2 separate regions of the Homo sapiens genome follow, and region 2 is linked to region 1. The links come from fine-mapping of genetic effects on gene expression. A gene starts in region 1. The other region holds a variant in brackets. All regions are shown on one strand. Distances are between the middles of the regions.

Region 1 (10,121 bases):
GGGCAAGCTGGTGGTTTCTGCATTGGGATACAAAGTAAGGGTTAAGACTGGGGGCCTCGAGGCTTTGCTCCTGCCCAGGATTTAACTGCAATGCTTAGGCTCCAAGATTCGATGGAAAGAAATCCCAGCTGTGGGCTCTGAGGACTTTGAAAACTATGTTTCATATGTGAATACACTTGCCCTTTAGCAAGAATCTCCGCTGATAAGCCTTCCTCCTCTGAGTGTTTTTATTGGTCCCTTAGAAAGTGTTAGAGAAATTTCCCATTTTGATAGACTTTTTAATGATGTTACAAAAATATCATTTCACATTGATTCCACAGGGGGGACATCTGCTGCTTCCCAAATGCCACATTTCTTCAAATAAAAAGCAGAAGACAGCATGCAGTACATAAGGAACTCATGTCTTGGTAAAGACAAAATTGAAATTCTTTTAATAATTAGTCTCATGTCATAGAAAAGAGGACTGATTTTCCTCACCCACCCAGCAAGGTTGCTCTTCTTGCTATACTTGTTTGGCATAAACTACTGACTTCTTGCGAGCACTGATCTTAAGAGGGCCATGGTAATGAGTCACGGTAATTTGGCATGTCTTTGAAGATCCTTCCTCCTACACTTCTGTTTGTCCCCTTGAAGGCATCCTATTTCAGGCTGTGTTTAGCTATTCCTTTTGTTGATGCGTCCACTCATGCCTGAGGTATGTCTCATAACACACCTGTGAGAGGGGACCTTGGAGGAACGTCACCAAAGGCCGAGGAGCAATGTCTTTGCAGTGTTTCCCAGTCCATCTTGTCCTCTGGCTTTTACTTCAGAAGGGACACTCCTGCCTTGCTGGCAAGAGGGGATGGGCTTTGCCTTGAATTCCAGCTGTGGGCTCCGCTTTGCAAGATATCTGCTTGTCAGAACCTGAGACTGCAGGTGTGCAGGGTCTGGTCTATATGACCACGGGACAGGTCCCAGGTATATGACTGACAGGCCTGAGGGACCAGAAGCCCTTCTCCTTACCCAAGCCCAGATGGAGAAAACTTCAACTGTGAGAGCCCTCCTTTATTCCCAAACGGCCATCATTGTTTCCCTTCCCTGTGGCTTTTTATAAAGAAATCTGGGGGAGTAAGAATAAATCGTTTCTAGATCAAAGAGAAACAGCGAAAACCAGGAGAAAAGGCGGTAGCCAATGTACCCACTCCATTCAGATGAATGCAGTCCAAACAGAAAGACAGCCAGTCATACATCACTCAGTGACAGTGCAATGCAATACTTCCAAAGATCTGATTAGGCACTTCTGTTTTTCTTATTTTAAGCTTATGCTTTACAAAGTAAGTTGTTGTTTTTCGTTTTGTTTTGTTTTAAACGAATCGCCTTTAAAGTAGTGGGGGCAAAACACCAGAGCTTAGGCAACCCCTGGTGGAGGCTTTTATAATTCCTCTACTTTTTGGCTTTGACAGCATGAGGGTTGCCTGCTCTAAGCCCTGCCTATCCATCCACCCAGAACTGAAGTGGCTGAATCATTGCCTGGCATGACAGGAAAGTCTTGGGCTTGAGGGGAGAAAAAAAAAGAAAAGAAGAGAGGGAAGACGGTGGGACGAGAACTGGAAAGAAGAGGAAGGAAGGGAAAGATTGTTCAGAGGACGATGCAAGATGTCCACAGGCAAACGGGACTGAGACTAACCTCTTCCATTGTGAGAGAATATCTCAGCTCCTAAAGTTTTTGATATAGTATGTGATGCAGGGTAGGAGCCCAGCAAATGTCAGGGCTTCTGTGATGCCCAGCCCCTTGGCTGCCCCCTCATGCTCCATGCGGCTTCACTTCTTCCTGGGAAGTAAAACAGAATCAGATTCTGGCTGTGTTGCCATTCACTTTCACTCCTCTGGAACCCCAGGGAGCCTAGGGCTGCTACTGCTGCACCTTAGTCCTCAGGGTAGCACAGACCTGGCTACGGAACTAGATGCCTATGGATGACCATCTATACTCTCCAGAGTTCAGATTGAGAGCAGAGTTCTAGCACGTTGCCTCACGCACCTTGAGATAGTCTCTTCTGGGAACAGTGCCCTCCGTGCCCAGCGCATTTGGGTAACATTCACAGCCCACGTTAGACTCCTCCTTGGAACACCATTTCACGTGCCTACAGAGCCCAGGGCCCTCCCTATGACTCTGCAGGGGAGAGAGCCCTCACTGGCATTGGGCTGAGGACAGCCTGGGACACTCCCTTTCCTCATCCAGGTAGTTCTCATCATGGTTCTCATCCCGAGCCCTTGAAACCCCACGAAGGTACTAGCCCCTGGGATACAGTAGTAAATGGACAGGGCAGAGCCTGCCCTTGAGGGGTGCCCATCCAAGGATCCCTGGATCTGGAATGAGAGACAAATCTTGAATTCTCCCCTGAATCCTCATCCTACCATTGTGTGGGACTATATACCAATTTGCCAGTGTGCATTGTCCCCTCCTCCTGGAGTTAGGCTCAAAGGCGGGGGTAGGGTAGAAGTCCAAGAGCAAGGGGACTCCCTTTGCTGTATGGTACCCTAGAAGGTCCAGAGTCCTAGAACTCCTCTCACACCAAATCCACATATCTTAGCTGCAGAAGTGTCTGGAGCAGTCCCCTGAGCTTCCTGTGACACTAAAGTGGCATGGGAAAGCAGTTGAATTTTCCCGTGCCTCCAAGGAGGTAAGAGAGGGAGGGAGAGAGAAAGAGGGAAAGAGAAAGAGGGAGAGAGGGAGAGGGAGAGGGGGAGAGAGAGAGCGAGAGGGAGAGCACGTCTCCAAAAAATGTCACATAGAAAATGGCATGGACTGTGCAGCTAGGAACCAGGTTAGAATGACGACACCACATTGGAAGACAGCATGAAGGTATGCCATCTCTGAGCGCTGGATGGGATTGTACATTGGGAGTGGATGCTGGCATGGACAGGTTGCCATTGACAACAAGCAGATTCTCTTCTCTCTTGCTCTCTCTCTCCGAATTTAAGAGTCTCACAGAATTTAGGTGATAGGCTGGGGCAAAGGAGACAATCCTAAATTGCTTGATAACAATAATTGGTAATTAGTAAGACAATCCCGAAGTAACTGGGAAAATGTGGAATTGACTAGATTAAATTTTCTGTTATCTGTTGGAGTTGAGACTCAAGATAGGGCTCTTTTGTGGTAGATGCCATTCTAGATGGCCCCCAAGTTTCCTGCCTCCTAGTGTATGTGACCCCTTGTGTATGGGTAGAATGTACTACAATCAGCCTCCTTATCCATGTGTTCCACATCTGTGGATTCAACCACCTGTTGAATTTGAAAAAGATGGGTGGTTGTCTCTGCAGTGAACATGTACAGACTTTTTTCCCTTGTCATTATTTCATAAATAATGCAGTATAATAACTATTTACATGGCACTTACATTGTATTAGGGATTATAAGTAATCTAGAGGTAATGTAAAGTATACGGGAGGATGTGTATGTATGTTATATGTAAACACTGCACCATCTTATATAAAGGACTTGAGCACCTGTGGATTGTGCTATCCACAATCCCGAGCTTTAAGTGAGAATGTAGTCCTTCACTGCAGCCTTTTGAGACCCTGAACCTAAGACCCAGCTTAGCTGTGCCTGGATTTCTGACCCACAGAAAGTAGGAGGTGACAAATGAGTAGTGTTTACAGCCACTAAGCTTGTGGTCATTTGTTACATAGCATTGATTGGCCCTTATCCCTCATTCACTGAAGACTCAGGTACCAGGCTCACAGGTGACCTTGGTACCCTGTGTCCTGTCATCATTCTGGGGGACTGCAGTGTATTCATCAGCAGCCTGTGCCACTCACAGACCCTTGACTTCTTCCTCATCTCTAACCTCTAGCAATCTCTTCCCCCCCACCTCAGCCTCCCAGCTTCAAGGCCACATCCTTGACCTTTAAATCACCAGGATCTGTTTTACCTCAGAAATCTTAAATTTCAGGGTCTCATTCTGGGACTAAAACCAGTACTCTCACACCCTTGCTGCCTCTCTATATCCTCACCCATCTCCTAGATCTTTGTTTGTCCCCAGTCCACCAGTCTTCTTAACCACTGTCAGCCACCTGAACTGCTCTCTTACTGGCTCTCTCCACTTGCTCCCACTCTTGTCCTTCTGCTGCTATGAGCCCCAGCAAAACCTCGAGCTTACACCAGAGCAAACAAACAACAAAAACAAACACACACAATTGTGCCAAGTGGCATATATAATTTTCTATCCCAGCTGAGACAATCAATCTTGTTAAATTTTGAATTGTTTATAGGTAGTGTTAGTTTTCTAGGGCTGCTGTAACAAAGTACTACAAATTACATGGCTTAGAACAACAGAAATGCATTGTCTTACAGTTTTGGAGGCCAGAAGTCTTAAATCAAGGTGCCAGCAGGACCATGCACCCCCTGAAACCTATAGAAGAAGAATGCTTCCTTGCCTCTTCCTAGCTTCTTGTGGTTTGCTGGCAATCATTGGCATCCACTGGCTTGTAGATGCATCACTTCAATCCATTGTCTTCACATGGATGTCTTCTCTCTATGTGTTTGTGTCTGTGTCCAAATTTTTTCTTTTGATAAGGACCCCAGTCATATTGGATTAGGGCCCAACCCAATTACCTCCTTTTAACTTGATTACCCTGTTAAAGACCCTGTTTCCAAATAAGATCACATTCTGAGGTACTGGGTGTTAGGACTCCAACATACAATTTTTGGGGGGAGGACACTAACACCTAAGTCAAAAAGGACCAAAAGACATACCATACAAAGCAAAGGCCCTCTGCCCTGCACCTTCCCTCTTCTGTTCTCATTTTAAATGTTTCTACTTTCATTTCTTCTAGTAGATTGTCCCTGTCTTTCTAAATACTATGCTATTTCTATATCAACTTTCTAATGTTTTCAACTTTAGACATTGCTGACTTCTTCCTATGATAGATGAGATCACTTATCCATTCCTCTTTTTATGTACATATTTTTAACCTTGGATTTTGGAAATTGATCAAACCTATACAAGATTACAGAAAATAGTATAATAAACCCCAGGTGTTCATCAATGAACTTCATTGGTTATCAACTCATGACAAATTTTGTTTCATCTCTCCCTGCCATTTTCCCTTCTCCTTTTACTATATAGATTTATTGCCATTTTTAAGTTTTCTATTGTTTACTTTTGTATCTTTAAGTAATATCCCTAAATCTGTATTTCTCTTTCTATGAACTGGGGACAGCGACTATTGATTTATTATTATTATTATTATTATTTTTTTGCGATAGGCTGGGGCAAAGGAGACAATCCTAAATTGCTAACCCTAAATTAATGTGCCTACATTTCCTGCCATCTCCCTTCCTCCTCCCAGCTTTTTGTCAACTGTTGCTGCAGGCCAGGTTCCCAAGGAAGCTGACTAAGATGTAGAGTAATGTGCAGGAAGTTTCTTAGGGAGTACTCTTAGGATCAACACCTGTAGAAGGGGAGGGGAGGGAAGAAATCAAAATTCAACAGACAGAGAAAGTGGGCAGTCTCAAAAAAGGCTTCAGTTAACCCCACAGGGAGCTCTGAAGCTGAAATGGCCTTTCAGAGATGTCCCAAGTTGGGGTAAGGGGCTGCACCTTTGTACCTTCAAGTTGAATCACTGATGTGGGCTTCCTGAGAACAGGGGTGACCTTGGCTGAGGTACCTATCTTTTTCTAAGACAATTTCTGATGAGGGCTAACGACAGCTAACAGCTCTCAAGCCAGCTAGGGAAATAAAATTTTTGGTGTTGAAGGGAGATCTGAGCAGTGCACCACAGCACCATCACAGCTGTATTTGTACCTTCCCATTGTCCATTGTTGTTTAGTCATAATTAAGTCATCTGGGCTTTGTTATAGATTGATTCTCAAAGTTGAAAATCAAACTGTGTTTGCAGTATTAGGACGGTATAATAGTATTCAGTACAGTACAGTGTAGGGCTAGGATTCCATCTCCCCACAATTGCTGCTCTCTCTGTTTGGCGCACCCTTCTTGCAGACCTCAATGCGGCTTGCTCCCTCACTTGCTTCAAAATTTTGTTCAAATGCCACTTCACTAGTGAGGCCCTGCCTGGCCACCCCATAGAAAATAACAAGCATGCCCCGCACCCACGCTTTATTTTTCTCCAGACCGGGTATGCCCACCGACACTCTCTATATTTTTTTATTGTTTTAAGCTCCACCAAAGCAGGGACATAGAGCCCCAGTGCCACCAACAGCGCCTGGTATACATATTTGCGATACTTAATAAGAATTAGTTGAAGAAATGAATAGGAAAGGGAGTCCCTTTAGATGGAGGAAGGGACTTTCTCAAAAGGCCTCATGGAAGGAGAATGGCATTGAGGCTGGCTTACAAGAAGTGTGTCTTTTATAAAAAGAAGGAAGGGCAGGGCTTCCAGGTGAAAGGCATAGCACAAGCAAAGGCAAAAAGACGGGTAACTGCTAGTTGTTAAGGGCAGTGGCTGAATCGCTATACCCCTAGCAGTTCTACACCTAGGGGCCTGCGGGCCGCTGGGTCTGCGAAGCTTGCAAGGCAACTGGCCCGCCCCCGCTCTGCGCCTGTCTCTCGGCCACGCCTATTGCTGCAGGATGACGCGCACCTCTAGAACCCGCCCCGGAGGGGAGGGACGCAGGGAAGAGTCGCACGGACGCACTCGCGCTGCGGCCAGCGCCCGGGCCTGCGGGCCCGGGCGGCGGCTGTGTTGCGCAGTCTTCATGGGTTCCCGACGAGGAGGTCTCTGTGGCTGCGGCGGCGGCTGCTAACTGCGCCACCTGCTGCAGCCTGTCCCCGCCGCTCTGAAGCGGCCGCGTCGAAGCCGAAATGCCGCCACCCCGGACCGGCCGAGGCCTTCTCTGGCTGGGTCTGGTTCTGAGCTCCGTCTGCGTCGCCCTCGGATCCGAAACGCAGGCCAACTCGACCACAGGTGCCGCCCACGCCCTCCCTGCCATCTCTTCTCCCTTCCTCCCTCCCTTCCTTCCTCCTTCCTTCTTTCCTTCCTTCTTTGTTTATATCCATTCTTTTTACCCTTCCTCTCTCCTACCATTCCTTCTTTCATCCATCATTCGTTCCCTCCCTCCATTTTTCACTCCTTCCTACCGTCCCTTCATCCCTCCCTTCCCTCTTTCCATCTATTCATCCATCCATCTCCTATCCCTCCGTGCTTCCCTTCCTCTTTCCCCCCATCTTTCCCATCTCTATCCATCCATCTTTCCCCCTCCTTTCCTCCCTCCATTGGTCCATCCGTCCCTTTTACCTTCTATCCATTCATATTTCTCTCTCTTCTCCCCTCCTTCTCTCCATCCTTTCTTCCCTTCAGCTATTCATCTTTTCCTCCTTATCTTCCTCCATCCAACCATCTGTCCTTTCCTGCATACATCATTCTCTTTTTTTCCTAAATTCATCTTTCCTTTCCACCATCTTTCACTCACTATCTCGCTTCCTCACCCAGGTTGGAGGCCATGACCAAAGCCTAACCCTGCCACCCAGGACTCAGGCTTCCTCCTCGAGCCCCACTCCCACCCTTGCTGAGGCACAGCGCCCTCCCTGGCTAGGCTGTTAAGGTGCAGGGTCCAGCCTTGGGCCTCTTAGTAACCTAGCACCTACCATGAGGGAGGGTTCAGTGTCAGTGCAGGTTACCTCACCAAAGCCCCTCCCTCCTGTGTAGATGCTCTGAACGTTCTTCTCATCATCGTGGATGACCTGCGCCCCTCCCTGGGCTGTTATGGGGATAAGCTGGTGAGGTCCCCAAATATTGACCAACTGGCATCCCACAGCCTCCTCTTCCAGAATGCCTTTGCGCAGGTATGTCTGGGAACCTCTAGCTGTGGGTGTGTGCTGCTTCGTGCACTGAGGGTTGGGGGCGGGGAGCTTCAGCTATTGTCAGATGGCACAGATTGTGCGGGACATCTTGTTAGAGGGAAGCATAGTCTGGAAAATGGTAGTGGAGAAAATCTGGTTTTCCACTCATGGGAAAGCTTGACCTTCAAGGGTGGCCTTCTCCTTGGGTGCAAGGTGCGCCCTGGCCCTGATGTGTTCATGGCAGCCCTGGCCAGCTTTCTCCCAGAACGGGCGCTTGCCTGGTGCTCAGAAGGAAGGGGTGCTGCAGAAGGGCACCCACAGGTCTGCAGGCTGGGCCTCAGGTGAGAGCTAGCCAGGGTGGCCCTGCTCCCTGAACCCCCTCATGGCTCTGCCCCCAGCAACACTGGCCGCTCTGTGTGCCTGGGGAGGCCATTGCGTAGGAGGAGATAAGCATCTGCTGGTTTCAGGGGCTGATTGCTTCCCTTTTCTCTCCCGGAAGCAGTCTGTTGCCTAGGTGACACCCAAATCCCAGTGTCTGGTTTGAGCTCTGCATGACTCAGCTACCAAGCTGTTTGCTAGGAGCCTCGGGAGGGCGGTTGCTTGGTTACCTAAGAGATGGCAGACATGTTTTGCTGTGGCGATGCTTACCTCTGCTTCTGCTCCCTAACAGCAAGCAGTGTGCGCCCCGAGCCGCGTTTCTTTCCTCACTGGCAGGAGACCTGACACCACCCGCCTGTACGACTTCAACTCCTACTGGAGGGTGCACGCTGGAAACTTCTCCACCATCCCCCAGTACTTCAAGGAGAATGGCTATGTGACCATGTCGGTGGGAAAAGTCTTTCACCCTGGTACTGCTCCATGTCCAGAGTCTGGGTTCTCTTGGTTTGTGGTGTCTGAATCCAGCATTCCCATCCTGGGGATGGGGCTGTCTTTGCAGAGCCCTCTTCTGGCTGGGCGAGTCCCTCGCTAGTCAGTGCTTCCTTTCTAAAAAACTGACTTGTCAACCCAGCCACGTTTTCACCCAAAGTGAAAAAGGGTAGAAAGAGCTTTGCTTCCTTTCAGAAACCACTGAGGGTGTGCTGTTGGGTCTTTCAGCTCCTCGGGTGGTAGGGAGGACACAGGCTGGGGAGGTGGCAGTGTTGGGTGGAGTCCAGCTCAGGGCCCCACCCTCTCCCCTGCAGGGTACCTGTCAGTAAACCTAGGGGTGGGGTGAGGACACCTGAGGGCCTCCCGTGTGGCCAGCATTGCTGTTGCTGACTTATTGCCCAATGAGGGGGCTGTGCTTAGGTAGGGGCTGCTATCCACTCTGGAAATTAAGTCAGAAAGATGAGTGTAATCTGGTACCCAGGATCTATAGGGTCCCAGAGACGGACATTCCTTACCTCAAATGCTGCCTGATAAACTGGCTCTCTTTAATGCCAATATGGGGATAGTGAAAAGCAAACAAACTTTAAAACTTTTTATTTATAGAAGTAATGCATGAGTATTTGAGAAAAAAAATGGAGAAAAAAGTATTGGAAGACAAGAGCACCATAGGGACAATAATGCTTATCATTTGGGAATGACGAATGTTTTCAGTCTCTTTCCCTTTGCTCAGTGGTTACACCGGCAGGCTTGGCAGCCTTCTGCAGGAGCTCAGCTGGCCAGCCCAGGTTGAGAGTGACATTCAGCTCTACTAAGTCAGGCCAGTTTCAGAGGTGAACCTGTCAGGAATCATATTGCACAGCCAAAAGTCCAGTGTCAGGAGAACTTTCTGCAGTTTGGTGTTCTCATTACCATACCCCTTGCCCAAATGCAGCTGGAGGGAAGTGATGATTTTGGAGAGAGGAGGAAACACAGCAGAGGGAGGAGATTGTGCTTTGGGAGGGGAAACCAGGCAAGGACTGAGTGATGTTGCTTGACCTCCTCCCTCCTGATGATTGGATTTTGGCACCAGGCTCTAAGCACCATGTCCTTCTCAGAGAATAAACCTTTCCCTGCAGCCCTTGTGGGAACACATTTTTCAGCTGAATCTTTGTTCTCAAGACCTTTTTCTGTTAGCATTGGGCCTGCTTCAAGATGACAGTAGCCACCACTGTGTGCCAGGTATGTACCGTTTACCATGCTGGCCACTCCTTTAATCCTCCCAACAGCAAGCAAGGTGGGTTTTTATCATCATCATCATTTCCCAAGGAAGACATGAAGGCTCATGGGAGTCAAGTAGCTTGCCAGAGGTTGCAAGGATGCTAAGAGGCAGCATCAGGATTTGGACCTGTGGTTGTTGGCTTCCTGTGTGCTCTTTCCACAGTGCTTGCTGTCTTCATAGGCCCTCCACCCGCTGCCCTCTTTCTCTCCATTCCT
Region 2 (9,967 bases), 31 kb after region 1:
GAGCAAAGTATGTTTGGTAGTGAGGTCACAAAGGCAATCAGCCCCTTCCTCCCCACTCCCATTGCCATCTTCTCAGTCCTTCTCCCTTTCTTTCCAAGTAGTTTACCCACCCCTCCTCTTTCCTCCCCTGTCCCTAAAATAATCCACGTGTCTTCCTAAAATCTCTCTTTGATCCTGTCCTTTGATAACACCGTCAGTGCCTACTACTGGGTCTAGACAGACCTCTGTTGAGCAGTCAGAGTCTTCCCTGACTCCACAATGCCCCTTTCCTTGGCTGACCAGTATGACTACTGGTCCCCACCTTTCCCTTGCCTATCCCTACCTCCCTCCTACTAGGTTGTCCCATCCCTCTCTTCACCCATTCATTCATGACCATTTTTCACTACCAAGCTCCCCCCCTCCCGAAGGAGGCTGAGGTTTTTGTGACTCTCTAGACTCTATTGTGGGATGGAATGAACATTGCTAAAGAATCTTGTGTTCGCTTTACTTTAAAAAGGTATTTTTTTCCTAATTATAAAACTGATGTGTCAGTTACGGAAAAATTAGAAATGCAGCACAAATACATGAATATTTTACCACAAAATTGCCATATAATATCTTGTCTTTTTTGGGGGTGTGAATTTTTTGCATTGTTCTGGTCATATTCTTTATCATGTAATTTATGTTCTTTTTTACTAAGTATTATGTGTGGTTATTATAGATTTTCACAAAGATATATTGCTGGTAATATATTTTATTGTGTAGTCTTATAATTTACTTAACCTTCTTTCAATTGTTAGAAATTTAGGCTATTTCCAGATTTTCAGTATTGTAAATAATGCTGTGATGACCAATTTTGTGAATAAAATGTTTTTATGTATTTCAGATTATTCCCTTAGGATAGTCTCTCAGTGCCAAGTTGTCAAAAACATCTCTATTTTGCTTATCTTCCTGCTCTCTTGCTGCCTTAGGGGGTAGTAAACTGAAACATAAAGTAAACATGCATACAAATAAAAAACATAAAACAAAAATAAGCAACCTGATGGTAATAGGTGAAAGTGGTAACCTGTTTTAACTTTGAATTCTTGCCGGGCGCGGTGGCTCACGCCTGTAATCCCAGCACTTTGGGAGGCTGAGGCGGGTGGATCACGAGGTCAGGAGTTCAAAACCAGCCTGGCCAAGATGGTGAAATCCCGTCTCTACTAAAAATACAAAAATTAGCCGGGCGTGGTGGCGGGCGCCTGTAATCCCAGCTACTTGGGAGGCTGAGGCAGAGAATTGCTTGAACCCAGGAGGCGGAGGTTGCAGTGAGCCAAGATCGCGCCACTGCACTCCAGCCTGGGTGACAGAGCGAGACTCCGTCTCAAATAAAAAACAACAAAAAACAAAAAAAACTTAAAATTCTTTGCTTGTTAGTGACCTTGATCATGGTTCTCTTTGTACGATAGTTGGGCATCTGTATTTCCACTTGTGTGAATTTGCCTTTAAATTTTGGTTATGGGTTTCACCTTTTAAAATAATCAAACATATTTATCTTTTCCTGTGTGATAGGTTTTTTTCTGTATCTTTTCCTGTTAAACACACAGACCCCTCCCCAATCTGGACATTGAATAAATATTCATTTTCCTTTGCATTGTTTGGGGTTTGGTTTTATGCTTACTGTGTCTCTCCACCCCATTATCAGAGTAATATATGCTCATTGCATAAAATCTGGAACATGTGAAAACTGGAGATGAAAAGAAGCCCAGCATTTGAGACATACCCACTGCTGACATTTGTATATTTCCTTTCATTCTTTTACCTGCCTAAAGACATATATGCAGATATGGACATATTTAGCTTTACATACATGCAGACTACCACATATAATCTATATCTTGTTTTTTTGATCTAACACAATGTTAGCTTGGTTTTTTATGTCATTGACAGTTCTTGATTAACAGCTGTAATGGCTGCACAGCCCTGCTTCATTAATTTTTTTTTTTGGACTGAAATGTATGTACCACGTTCCGCTTATCCATTCATCCACCAGTGACCACTTGGGTCATTTCTACCTTTTGGCCATTGCAATAATGTTGCTGTCAACAAGGATGTACAAATATCTGTTCGAGTCCCTGCTCTTAATTGTTTTGGGTATACACCCAACCTACATTAATCTTTAATCACTTAAGATGTTGGGGTTTGTGCTGGGAGGTAACCAAGTGACTCTGGAGCAGCCTCACCCTAGCTACAGAGGGAAACTGACTCTTCCCTCTCTGCCCAATCTTTTGCCGCCTGTCAGGTTCCCAAGCTGTCCATACCTTACTGTGTGAAGCGCTTTGGGTATAAACTCCCAAATAGAGGCTCAGCCCCTTTTCCTTTCCCAAGTCCATCCTGCAGGTTATAGCTCTTCAGAGGAATCTCTTGAATTCTGGCCTGGGATCTGGGATTAAAGTAGAACCCAGGGTGTCCCTTGGGGCCTTAGGCATAGCCCGTTGTGGTGGAACCTGCCATCAGCCCCACTGCACTCAGTGGTCCCCTGGTACTTCAGGACAGTTTCTCTCTTCTGCACATGAGAACTTCAAGCAGAGAGGACTGTCAGTTGTTGCCTTCACATCACCAATCGTTTGGCCATAATGGCCAAGAGCCCTCACTGCTCTTGGGTCTTGCCTTTCCACATGTTACTGAAAGCTCCCGTTGGTGTCCCTGTCCACTAACTCACCTGATGGGACAGATGCCACTTTCCTCTGAGTGTCTGATAAAACACAGTCTGTTGTGGGGAGCCCACGCTCAAGGGTTTTCTTTGGGATCAGAGTTTCCCGGCTATTACTCCATGCCCTGCCTGACATCACTGTCATGTATGGTGCTAATCACCAAAGGATGCCCTTGTTTGATTCTGGATTCTAGGTGATAGTCCTTATCCTCTGATGGGGGAAGAGTTTGGGTGGGAGAGAACAAACCGACAAGTTGGTTCCAGATGAGGTGGCTGGGAGCCAACCCTCAGGTACTTGGCTCTGAGTAATGTGACGGCCCAGGCAAGAGGGCTCCCACTGCCAATGAGGAACAAAAGCTCAAGGTCTAGTAGTGTATTCAGCACATGCTAGGAAACAAGAGTTGGGACGTGGACAAGGAGAGGAGCAAAGGCCAGGGGTTAACTGCTTTTGGTTTTTCCTCTATAAAAGTCAGGGACTATGATTTATATGGGTGAGAAGGTTTGGAGTAGGACTGAAGCTGCCATTTACAAACCCCTTGCCCTAATTTATTGTAGTTTTGGGTGTGTTTCTGAAAGAACCTTTTGCAGGTGATTTTTATTCAGTACTCATTAACTTACAGCTTTTATGAATTCACATCTTCTACACTATTGAAAAACATAAGTTTGTATTGTGTTAAGTGCAGCATGAGTTATTATATGAATAAATCACATTAAATTTGCCATTATCGTGTGTGCAATTCTTGCTGCTGGTTTGGGACCGCTTGGTGCTGCCTTAAAATAAAAGGAGCCATTTAACAGAGCTTGATACCGTGGTACAGGTGTGCCCCCTTAAAGTATCCAACCTGTTCCTCCCCATGTGAGGGCCAAGGCAGCTGTGGTGTGGGTTTTATTAGGGAGTTGAATTCTTGAGGGTAGATGGTGAGTTGCACTTGACCATAGACACACTTTTCTGGGCAGTGGTATGTCTCTCAGCTTGCCCTGCAGTTACAGTACAGAGACTCCCCAGAAAGAAAGAG[G/A]AAGTGGGCTGACCAATTAGGTAGGCTTAGGGAAACCATATATGCAATAGCAACAAGGTAAAGGAAGCAAATTAGTGGGTTCTTGGGGTTCCAACTGGAAATTTGCCTGTTTAGTGGTCTTGGCTTAGTGTCTTCATGAGCCTTAGTTTATCTTTTTCTACCTATCCTACTGGTTTCGACTAAAAATTCGGAAGGCAGTGCTTCTTATATTGGTGAGGACATTGGAAGACATACATTTCCAAATAGATAAAGGCAGGCTGGAAGGATTGAGTAAATCTCAGCAGGTGAAGTAACTTCAATGTATTCATTTACTGGCTTGTTTATTATGTATGGTGCGAAGTTTAAAAGGCACAAACATGAGGGAGGATTGCTTGAGGCCAGAAGCTCAAGACTAGCCAGGGCAACATAACAAGACACCCATCTTTACACAAATTTTTAAAGAAATTAGCTGGGTGTGGTGGCATGGCACCTCTAGTCCCAGCTACTCGGGAGGCACAGGCAGGAGGATCACTTAAGCCTGGGAGTTCAAGACTGCAGTGAGCTCTGATCATGTCACTGCGCTCTGGCCTGAGTGACAGAGTGGGACCTTGTCTCAAACAAAGGCACAAACATGTATACAATGAAGAGTCATTTCCTCTTCCATGCTGTTCCCAGCTACCCTATTATCCTCAGAGGCAAGCATGCCTACCAGTTCTTGGAAACTGCTGAAGTTTGAAAAGGATAAATGGAGACCTAACAGGAAGGCCCCAGAACCAAGGTGCTAGTGAGGGGTGACCCAAGGGAGCAGTATTGCACATGCAACCCTTTTACATTGTGGCCAACAGCTCAGAATGGGGATGCGGTGTGATGTGGCTGCCAGGAAGTGAAAGGCATCTCAGGCTACATAAATGGATATCCAGGAGGAAGGAGGAGGTAAGCTGCTCTGCCTACGTGTCACGGTCAGCCAGCACCTGGAGAATTGTGTTTAGTTGCGAACATGGAGCTGTCATGGAAATGTGGACAAACTGGAGCCTGTTCAGAGGACAGCCCTAAGATGGGTGAGACCCAGCATATCATGTGAGGAACAGTTGAAGAAGTGTTCAAATGGGGAGAGAAAAGACTCGGGTGGGTAAAAGTAGGGGGTTGGGGGGAGAGCATGGCACTATCTTGAAATTTCTGAAGAACCATCAGAGGCAAGAGAGATTAAACACATGATATCTAGAGCCCCAAGGGAAGATCCAGCACTGGACCCTGCAAGGAGACAGATGGCCATCCAGAGGTTGAACTTTCGGCCGGGTGTGGTGGCTCATGCCTGTAATCCTAGCACTTTGGGAGGCCAAGGCGGGTGGATTGCCTGAGCTCAGGAGTTCGAGACCAGCCTGGGCAGCTTGGTGAAACCCTGTCTCTACTAAAATACAAAAAAAACCAAAAAAAATTAGCCAGGCTTGGTGGCGTGCACCTGTAGTCCCAGCTACTTGGGTGGCTGAGGCAGGAGAATTGCTTGAACCTGGGGGGTGGAGGGTGCGGTGAGCTGAGATCGTGCCACTGCACTCCAGCCTGGTGACAGAGTGAGACTCCGCCAAAAAAAAAAAAAAAAAAAATTAAAAAACAGAGGCTGAACTTTCTAACATAGCAGCTTACCATTGAAGGAGCCTGCTCCTAAGTGTGGTGAGCTGTCATCTGAGCTATGTAAGCATCACGTAGGCAAGAGGTTCTCAATAGAGAGCAGTTCTCCTCTTGGGACATTTGTCAGTGTCTAGGGTCATATTTGGTTATCACAACTGGGGAAAGGCTGCTACTAGCATCTAGTGTGTAGAGGCCAGGGATGATAGGAATCACACACAGACAGCACCCCCTCCCCCAGAACAATAAAGAACTATCTGGCCCAAATGGCAATAGTTCCAAGGCCGAGAAACTCTAACATAGGCAAACATTTGCTACAGAAAGAAAAACTACTAAAATCCCCTCTTTCTCTGAGACTTCTATGATTGGAGAATGCATGCTCAATTATTAAAATAGCATGCTGACTATATCAGGTGATTGGCCCTTTGCATATAGCCTTGAATACATTTTTAAAGATTGCAAGGAGCTTTCAAATCAAGATGATTTAATAACAAACCATTTCATGTAGTAGTAGTAGATTGGATTTCTCTTTCTTCCTGTTCAGTGGAGAGACCCTCCCATCTGAGTTTCCTCACCCATAGAAAAGATGTTAAATAGGTGATTTCTTTTAAAAAATAATATTGCATTTTTTCTCAGTTGAAAAATTATTACATATTCATCACAGAAAAATTAGAAAAATATACAAAAGCAAAGAAAATAATCTAACACCACTGTTTACTTGGCATAGTCCTTCCCCTGAATAATACATATATAAAAAAATGGTTCATACTCTATCTCCTATTGGTTTTTCTACATCCTGTTTTACAACCTGGGTGTGTGGTGGCATGGCACCTCTAGTCTGCTTTTCACACTGTGTGATTTCTAAGGGCTTCCCCAATTCCAAATTTCTGTGACACACAAATTGGAAGAATTTCCATATAAACATGTGAGGCCATTTCCTGGAGGACAAAACTAGAAACCTCTGAGTTTCCTTCCTCTCCCATGACGTCTAATAAATGTGAGTGTTTCCACAAAAGATAATACTGAGGATGCTGCTTTTCCTAGCCTTGAGTTTCATGACTCTGTTTGCTCACAGAGTGCCCTGGATAGCCCAGAAACTCTATGGAATAGAGACATCCATCACCAGGCCTTGTGGATTTTACCTCTTTGTGTATCCATGTATCCATCTGATACATGCATCCACTGATACTTTGTGTATCAGTGTATCCATCCAGGTTTCTACCTCCACCGGGTACCATTCTGAAGCCATCTCCTATCACTTGGACATGGAACCACTTCCTAACTGATCTCCTACTCTTGCTACACTGCAAACAAGTTCACACAGTTCTGAATATGATCTTTGCAAAATGCAAACCTGATTGTGTCTCTGCCTACCGCTTGTACCTCCCTGCTCTCCCTCCCTCCCAATGGCTTCCCATTACTATGTGGACAAGCAGAAAACACCTGAACCTGCCCTTTGTGTAGACCATTCATGGTTTGCCCCCTGCTGACCTGCCACACCTCCTTGTTTTAACTCCTACTCCATCTTCATGGCCAACTTAACCCTTCCTTTCCAAGGGCATTCTTCCCTGATGCCTTTGACTAGGTTGCATAGCAGCTTGCATCACACACATACCACTTCTTCATAGTCCTCAGCTTGGTTGTACTTTTTCACTGGTTTGTGTAATTATTTCATTTGTATCTGTTTCCCCAGAAAGCTCCATGGGGGTAGAGAGTGTCTATTTTTGCATCATTGCCTCCTAGTGCCCAGTACACAGTAACACCCACAACAAATGTTTGTGGAATGAATGAATACAGTGTTCATAATGGCCGCATTGTTTTCTGTCATTTCCCTAAGCTCCTATTGCTGACTCTTTAGGTTGTTTCCAGTGTCATTTCTATTACAAACTATGATGCAGAGAACATCACCATGCAGCCATCTTTGTGCACTTGTGTATTAATGTATCTCTAAAGGATAAAATTGTAGAAATAGAATTCTTGGGTCAAAAGCATGTGTAGAGGACATTTGACATGATGTTGGACACCAGCATCCTAAGTGCCTTTCTCTACTTGGGAAATTCTGCACTCAATTATTTTGAGTGGCAGGCAGGGAGAGCCCTCTTGCCACTGCAGAGGTGCAAAGTGCCAGGAGCTCATTTTCCCATGACTTCCTTGTGGCTAGACAGCAGGCATATGACTTTGACTCAACTCAGCAAGATGCTTTCCTCCTTGAGTTGGTAAAGCAGGAACCAGTGTGAATTCATCTTCCCCCAGAGGAAGGCTCTGTGGTGATGTTAACCACCAGTGTCCAGCACTGGTAGTGTCACTATGGTTACCAAACTGTTTTTGTGTGGTTATGGCAGCTTGCCTGGTCACCTTTGTCCTTACCTGTTTTTTAGGTTTGAGACTTTGGCCTTCTCTGGGATTCTATGAGCTACTCAAGCCTTTCAAAAACAAACAGACAAAAAAGAAAAAACCTTTTTTTTCTGCTTAAATTAACTAGTCAGTAAAACAACCAGGGCTCCTGATTGATGAAGTGTCTGCATTTGAAAATCTGGAAGTTAGTGCCAAATTTCCTCCAGAGAGGTAGCACAAATTCACACTCCCATCAGCAGAGTGCACAGAACCTGAGTTCCTATCTTCCCTCTAGTACTTCTTACGTTGCTTTGCAATGACCTATTTCTAAGGAAGGGGACATTTCTTATTCATTTTTCTAGACTAAGCCTCTAACCTAGGGCCTGGCAAATTTAGGCACTTACATGTTTGCTAAATGAATGAATGAAAATAATTGTCTTTAAAGAGTTTGAGAAAGACCAAAGGTACCGTAGCTTGAATCAGAGACTGGGAGTTGGAAGGACACTCATCCACCTCCTTATTTGTTTATTTTCCTTTTGCTTTTTTAGAGACAGGATCTCCCTATGTTGCCCAGGCTAGCCTCGATTTCCTGGGCTCAAGCGATTCTCCTACCTCAGCCTCCCAAGTCGCTGGGACTACAGGCATGCACCACTGCAGCTCCTTATTCTGAGGTGGGAGCTTAAAGCCCAGAGGAGGCAAGCAGCTCCACCAAGGAGACACAGCTAGCCAAGTGGAAGCAGCCTCAGATCCAAGTCCACCAAGTCTATTTTCAGCCCACCTCCAAGTCCAGTCTTCTGCAAGGACTGCTGCTTCCACAAGGTTTCTCTTCTTGGGTCTCCCGATCCAGGGAGTAGATTTCAGCTGAAATGATGTGCAAAGGAGCCACCTCAAAGCTATGAAACCGCCAGAAAATCACTTTGTGAAAGGAAGAAGGCTGGCGACCACCCGTTTGGAAAATTGCCTTTGTAGTAACTGGGGGGCACACATGTGTGTGGAAGGATCAAGCGTCAGCCTTGCTATGGCCACAGTTTTGATTTTCCTTTATTCTTTGTATTGCTTTCAAATCAAAGGGAAGCCGTAGCAGAGAACCTCTTGCCCTGAGCTACACATATGAAAATGAACAAGGTTATGGGAGTCGCGTGTTTTCAATAATGGATCGCTGGTGCCGCCCTTTCTAGGAAATGAAGCGAGGCTGTTGCTAGGTTGGCGGTAAGAGGCACTGGGCAGGGGTAGGGGGTCCTAATTCCAGTGGTTTTACCTTTCCCACTATTCATTCCAGTCCAACCAATTGATAGAATAAGAATCAATTCTGAGCAGAACAGTGTCTCATTCTATTTCAAGCCCCCCCCAACCTGCTTTTTGACATTTCTATCACCACAGCTTGATAGAGAAAAATATTCACAAAGCCGAGTCCGTTTTGAAGAGAACATCTGTAAAATTGGGTCAGCAGATACGTTACACGTTGGCGTGGAAGATGAAATAGAACCCTGTCTGGTCTGAGCTTCACAGCAACAGGGAAGGGCTTTGTTTCCACGGCGGCGCGCACTTGGATTTGTGCCTTACAGCTCTGATCCGGCCACACAGCCCAGGCCCCTGGGCAGCCACAGGGCGCCGCCGCCTTCCGCCCTGGCTTTAGGGACAAGCTGGAGCCTGGCGGTGGAGACAGCGTGTGGTTCCTCAGAGAACCACTGGAGGCCGCTGTGGCACCAAGAACGCACGAAGGGCGCCCGGCTGGCGGAGTGGGAGTCTCCAAGGAGTAATGACTGTCGCACACACTGACTGTTCTCAAATTCTAGTCCAGGATTTTAAAGACACTGTTATGAATTAACGAGAATAAAATACTCGGCAGATGAAGCTCGGGTCTCAGATCCCCTGGGGTTCTTTTCTAACTGCTTTCTCATTCCCACCCCCCCCGGAACTGGGTCTCATTTGCAATCCACGAGGCACAGGCTTTATACATGATGGAAACGTCTTCCAAAAACGACACAAATGCACAAATGTTACCCTTGCAGCCTATAGTATTCATCCCCAAATACTATTGCAAAATATTATGCTATTTTCTCTATCAAGCAGTATTGGCGGCAGGTGCCAACCACCACGTGGGCCGCAGGAATACAGCTGCTGGATAAAATGCAGGATGCCCAGTTAAATATGAATTTCAGATGAACAATAAATAATTGCTTAATATAAGTATGTCCCACGTAGTACATGGATCATATTTATACGACATAATTATTCATTGTTTATCTCAAATTCAAATTTAATTGGGAGTCCTGTGTTTTTATCCGTAAAATCTGGCCTCCCTTCACAGAAAGGGTGACTCCGGTGAGGTAGCAAGGAGGTA

Evidence for each region. PIP is the estimated chance that this variant, and not a neighbour inherited with it, causes the effect.
Region 2: its variant is fine-mapped to the expression of IDS in whole blood (TOPMed, PIP 0.93).

The regions. Positions count from the first base shown.
Region 1 is chrX:149,501,820-149,511,940 of GRCh38, reverse strand. It overlaps IDS (iduronate 2-sulfatase), which reads left to right and starts at 6,635. Exons shown (of 9, transcript NM_000202.8): 1 at 6,635-6,906; 2 at 7,648-7,784; 3 at 8,452-8,629. The coding sequence starts at 6,804. RefSeq lists enhancers at 309-1,508, 6,731-6,890, 6,883-7,384, 7,508-8,056 and a silencer at 7,447-7,546.
Region 2 is chrX:149,470,414-149,480,380 of GRCh38, reverse strand. It overlaps IDS (iduronate 2-sulfatase), which reads left to right. Exons shown (of 9, transcript NM_000202.8): 9 at 1-3,393. LOC107985667 (a long non-coding RNA gene) reads left to right here and starts at 8,244. Exons shown (of 2, transcript XR_001755972.2): 1 at 8,244-8,832; 2 at 9,004-9,477. RefSeq lists a silencer at 9,129-9,423. The variant G/A (reference allele first, on the strand shown) is at 3,688.